2 separate regions of the Homo sapiens genome follow, and region 2 is linked to region 1. Evidence: fine-mapped expression QTL. A gene starts in region 1. The other region holds a variant in brackets. All regions are shown on one strand. Distances are between the middles of the regions.

Region 1 (2,908 bases):
GGGAAAAAAACGCAGAGGTGTGGGACCAATCCTGACTGTGCACACGTATTCCGCCATGTGCGGGTTTGAGGCACCACGGAGGTCCCTGCAGGAGCCCTGGGAAAGGTACATCCAGAGAGGGGAGAAGAGGACAGAGCAAAACTAGGAACAAAACTGGGCTTGAGGACTGTGGAACAGCTGACTATTGAGGAACAGAAGAACTGACTGAAAGCCAATGTGTTCAGCTACTGTAAAGTATCTCACTTAATTCTCTATTCTGTGGGACAGAGGGCTGGAATACTTGAAGATTTGTCTAAGCTGGGATCTGAAATATTAGCTCCCTTTGACTCCAAAGCTCCTGGAGTGCAGCAGCGCGATCTCGGCTCAACCTCCGCCTCCCGGGTTCAAGCGATTCTCCTGCCTCAGCCTCCTGAGTAGATGGGATTACAGGCGTGTGCCAGCAAGCCCGGCTAGTTTTTGGTTTTAGCACAGACGGGGTTTCACCATGTTGGCCAGGCTGGTCTCCAACTCCTGACCTCAGGTGATCCGCCCGCCTCAGCCTCCCAAAGTGCTGGGATTACAGGTGTGATCCACTGCGACCGGCCTCCTTCCTTTTTTAACTACATTGAGCTGCCTTCCTCCCCCAAGCCCCAAACCTTGGGACACCAGAGGCGGATAACCAGAGCCCTTTTCTGGGTAGAAAAGAGATAACCAGAGCCCTTTTCTGGGTAGAAGAGAGAGAGATGATTGAGAATTTAAAGAGGGCAATGAAGGATTACGAGAGGGGGTAACGGGCAGTTCTGCCTTCGTGCGTCTTAACAGCTATTTATTCAACATTTTCTGTGTGCCTTCTCTGTGTGTGTCAGGCGCCACGTTAGAAATGGATAAGAAACAGTCCTGCCCTCCAGGGCCTTACAGTCCGGTGAGAAGTCATATAAGTAAACAGGGCTGAACGAGAAGGCAGTAACTGCCCAAAGTGGGGATGGCAGGGCGCTCCCGCGGTGAACGTGGACACCTATCAGGTGCTGAGTAAATGCTGGCAAAATGAAGACAGGATGAAAAATAGAGAAGGGGCAGGGGTAGAACATGGCCGTGAAGGGTGGAAAGGCGGGGGCGATGAGAAGCTACAGGGGACCCCACCGACCAGTCCCAGGTCCCGTGGCCCGCCCCCTCCTCTCAGGGCCGGGGAGGGCCCGGCGGCGAGGCCGGAGAGTGGGGACCCCGCTTGACTGCATCCCAGACCCCCGTGGCCCCAGAATCCCGTCGGCCCACGCCGAGCTGCTCAGGACTCGCCGGGCCGGGCCGGGCCAGTCCCCGCCACCCCGGCTTGCTCGCCCTCTCACCTTCACCTTCCCGGCCTCGCGGCGGCCATCACACTCACTACGTCACCAGCGAGCGCCACCCCAGGGGGAGGCGGGAGGAGGGAAGTGGATAAGCGCGTCACCAGTCGCCTCAGATTGCCCCTCGACCCGGGTGAGCTGGTGGACCCTGAGCCCAGCCGGCTCGCCCCGCCTACTCCTTACGCCTCTGCTGCCCCGCGACTCGGCGCTTCGAGCGGCGTCTCAGCGCGCCACTCCTCCGCGCGCCACTCCTCCGCCGGCGCGTCCCAAGCGGACGACGCAGAGGCTCGGACTCCCACTGCATCATGGGGGCTGTAGTTCCGGTGGGCGTCGGCCGGAGCTGGGGGGGCGGGGCAAAGCGGGGCGGAGCCTCAAGCTGTCAAGGGGCGAAAAACCAAGGGCGTGGAGTAGAGGTTCCCGCTTTTTCGCCGGTTGTCCTAGAGCCTGACCCTGGGGCCTCTGCCAGCTCTGGAATCCAGATTTGCATTCTGTAATCTTAGAGGAGTGTTCTCTAGAGGGCCAGGCCTAGGGTGAAGTGACTCATCGGGCAGACAGAAGCGAGCATGGGCCTGCTGCCCTTCAGTCGCCTTTGAGGAAAGAAGAGCAGCAACAACGGCGAATCAATGCCAGTGACTGAACTGCGTCTCTAACATCCACCGCTGTATTTAACGTCCACAGCAGTCCCAGGAGAGGGAGAGGAGAGGTTACCCAAGCTCACATGGTTACCCAGATCACCGGGCCCCAGTGATGCGGCAGACACTACTAGGAAACCGCAGCAAACAGATCCCTTGCAGGACTTGGCCTCCGCAGAGAAGGCTCCAAGCCTGAGCGCGCCAGAACAGTAGGCACTAGCCACGTGTGGCTCTCGAGTCCTGAGCCAGTGCAAACGGAGATGCGCTATAAGACTTAGGACAAAAAAGGCTGTTAAACTATCTCAATTTTTAGGAAAAAAAAATATCGACCGGGCGCGGTGGCTCAAGCCTGTAATTCCAGCATTTTAGGAGGGCGAGGCGGGTGCATCGGGAGTTCAAGACCAGCCTGGCCAACATGGTGAAACCCCGTCTGTACTAAAAATACAAAAATTAGCCAGGCATGATAGTGCACTCGGGAGGAAGAGGCAGGAGAATCGCTTGAACACGGGCGGTGGAGGTTGCAGTGAGCCGAGATCATGCCACTGCACTCCAGCCTGGGCAACAGAGACTCCGTCTCAAAAAAGAAAAAAAAAATCTATCTTTGAGCCAGAGTCTCACTCTCACTCAAGCTGGAGTGCAGTGGTGCAATCACGGCTCACTGCAGCCTCGAACTCCTGGGCTCAAGTAATCCTCCCACCTCACTCAGCCTCCCAAGTAGCTGACCACAGATGCTGCAGCCATGCCTAGTATTTATCTTTTGTAGACATGGGGAAGCATTTCACTTTGTTACCCAGGCTGGTGTCCTGAACTCCTGGACTCCTGGAGTCAAGCAATCTTCTCCTGCCTCGGCTTCCCAAAATGCCGGGTTACAGGTACCTGCCACAGTGCAGGGCTATTAGCCCATTACTATTTATATGCTGACTACATGTTGAAGTGATAATATTTTGGGTCATTTGG
Region 2 (2,908 bases), 21 kb before region 1:
CACAAGGGGACACATGAACAAATGTCCACTGCAGTAGGGTTTCCAATAGCAAAAAAAAAATCTAAAATTCCATCCATAGGAAAATGAGGCATATTCACAATGGAATATACTACAGCAGTTCCGATTCATAAACAAACTACACATACTAACAAGGATAGAGGGAAAAACGATGTTGAGAAAGCAAAGCCAGGTACAGTGACAGACAGTGTGATGCCACATCTGTACATCTGAAGCATGTAAAAACCTGACATATTCCTCAGCATTTATGTAAAAAGTACTGTTTGGGTGATAGAACAATGTAAATTCATGATTATGGTGCCTCAGGGCAGAGTGACACTGGGACAAGTGCAAAAGAATCAAAAGGGAACTGAACTTTTTAAAATTTTAACTTAACATAAACAACTGAGAAAGTCAATTCTGTGTGATAGAAGCAAGGTGTTTTCATATTATTCTTTAGTGACAGGGTCTCACTCTGTTGCCCAGGCTGGAGTGCAGTGGTGCGATCACAGCTCACTGGAACCCTGAACTCCTGGGCTCCAGTGATCCTCCTGCCTCAGCCTCCCAAGTAGCTGGAACTACAGGTGTGTGCCACCACACCCAGCTGATTTTTAAAATTCTTGTAGAGATGGGATCTCACTATGTTATCTGGGCTGGACTCCTGGCCTCAAGCAGTCCTCCTGCCTTGGTCTCCCAAAGTGTTGAGATCACAGGTGTGAGTCACTGCTCCTGGCTGGAATGTTGTTTTGAAAAATGTGTTCAGGCTCTGAGAATGGCTGCAGAGCTCAGCAGGGCATGGGCCAAGACCTCCAACACAGGGAATCGTGCTGCACAGACCAGGTGGGGTGATGAAGCACCCAGCCGCCCTCCTCACCAGGCTGTCTATGTGGTTCTAACATGGTCTGGTGGCCAGGGAAAGGGCTCTGGATGGGAGCCCAGAGACTCAGCCCTGCCATCAAGGCGTGTCCTAACTGCCCAAGGCAGGGGTGGAGCACCCTTGTCTCGGCAGCTCTCTCCACCTATCTGCAGTCTTGGACTCTTACTGCTGCTCCCGAGCCGCCATGTGCAGGGAGTCCATGATGAGTCGAACCGCCTCTGCAATCTGCTTGGCCCGGACCGTGTGCTGCTCAAACTTGGTCTTCACTGCAGACTGGGAGATGCACTCCTGGAACACACAGAGGCACGGAGGGAGGTGGGGGCCACCAGGGGCCTACAACCAAGGGCCAGACTCTGGTTTTCACTGCCAGGGACACAGCCAATGGGAGCTGGGGAGGCACAGAATCGCCAGATACCAGAATCAGAGGACTCACCTCAAATCTCCTCTCAAAATTCTGAAACTCAAACATCCTCACTTGAAAGCCTTCTGCGAGAGCGCCCCCTAGGAGGATTGTACTGCATTAGTCCAGAAACAACTTGGCAGCAGAGGAAAACGATGAAATCCCCAGAAACCAAGCCACTGGCTAAAGAGCAAGAGCCTCTCTGCTCTTCTCAGCATCCCCTTCTCAGAAGGATTTTCTACTGACAGACTCCTCAGCACGAGACAAAATGTCTCAAACATCAGAGAAAAGGAGGACATCTGTTCTCATCATTACCTCCTTCAGGCAT[G/A]CCCTGGGCTTTCTGAATCCTGGCGTTGAGCACCTCCTTAGCAGACACAAAGAAGATGCGGTCCCCGGCCTGGGATCGATCCACCACGCCCAGCTCATCCACCAGGAAGCTGGTACAACGCTCCATGTGCTGCCGCCGCACCTGGAGCCCAAACAAATGTGTCCAGAGTGAGTGTAGGTGGCCCCACAGCCCCCACCTGCCTCTTTTATTAAAAGAATAGGTCATAAGAGGCTGGGCATGGTGGCTGACGCCTGTAATCCCAGCACTTTGGGAAGCCAAGGCAGGTGGATCACTTGAGGTCGGGAGTTCAAGACCAGCCTGGCCACCATGGTGAAACCCTGTCTCTACTAAAAATACAAAAAAATTAGCCAGGCATGGTGGCAGGCGCCTGTAATCCCAGCTACTCAGGAGGCTGAGGCAGGAGAATCACTTGAACCTGGAGGCGGAGGTTGCAGTGAGCCAAGATAGCACCACTGCACTCCAGCCTGGGCGACAGAGTGAGGGAAAAAAAAGAATAGGCAATATATTCACATGGCTCAACAGCCAAAGGCACAAACACATACACAGTGTAATGTCCCCCACTATTCTGCTCTCTCACCACCAAGTTTCCCAGACCAACGTGTGGGGGTTACTTGGCAGTGAGCGTGCCAAAGATATTTTATGCATATACAAGCAGAAATGCTTAAACGTGCCCTAGACTGCCTCTTGTTAAGCCTATATAGTGCCTCATTTTGGTGCCCTGGCAGGAAAGGAACCCTGAGGTCAAGAAACCTAAATCTGGGACCTATACTCTGACAAGCTGTGTCCTCCTGGGGCATTGTTTATAAAAGGAGTGGGCATCACTAGAACATCCCTCCTGGCTCTGACATCCTGGGGTTCTACCGATAAAATGTGACAATAGCTTCTTGTAGACACCTACCACGTGTCAGGTGTTTTTGACAGATTTCATCCTCTCAACAAGTCTATTTATCACACCATCACACTGGCCAGGAAATTGGATTACCAGAAGGGTCAAGGAAGCTAACAAAGTCACACTGCCTAGTGTCAGTCACAAGCGGGCACAGTGGCTCACGCCCGTAATCCCAGCACTTTGGGAGGCCGAGGCGGGCGGATCACTTAAGGTCAGGAGTTCAAGACCAGCCTGGCCAACATGGTGAAACCCCATCTCTATTAAAAATACAAAAATTAGCCAGGTGTGGTGGCGGGTGCCTGTAATCCCAGCTACTCGGGAGGCTGAGGCAGAATTGCTTGAACCCTGGAGGTGGAGGTTGCAGTGAGCCGAGATTGTGCCACTGCACTCCAGCCT

The links. PIP is the estimated chance that this variant, and not a neighbour inherited with it, causes the effect. A credible set is the group of variants that fine-mapping cannot tell apart.
Region 2: its variant is the best candidate, but not a certain one, in a credible set for the expression of MFN2 in whole blood (INTERVAL, PIP 0.86).

What each region holds. Positions count from the first base shown.
Region 1 is chr1:11,978,899-11,981,806 of GRCh38, reverse strand. It overlaps MFN2 (mitofusin 2), which reads right to left and starts at 1,363. Exons shown (of 19, transcript NM_014874.4): 1 at 1,323-1,363. RefSeq lists silencers at 1,078-1,317, 1,488-1,747.
Region 2 is chr1:12,000,236-12,003,143 of GRCh38, reverse strand. It overlaps MFN2 (mitofusin 2), which reads right to left. Exons shown (of 19, transcript NM_014874.4): 9 at 1,590-1,743; 10 at 1,308-1,375; 11 at 1,041-1,162. Among named protein-coding and RNA genes, the nearest start is that of MIIP, 18 kb to the left of the region's middle. RefSeq lists an enhancer at 1,417-2,346. The variant G/A (reference allele first, on the strand shown) is at 1,603.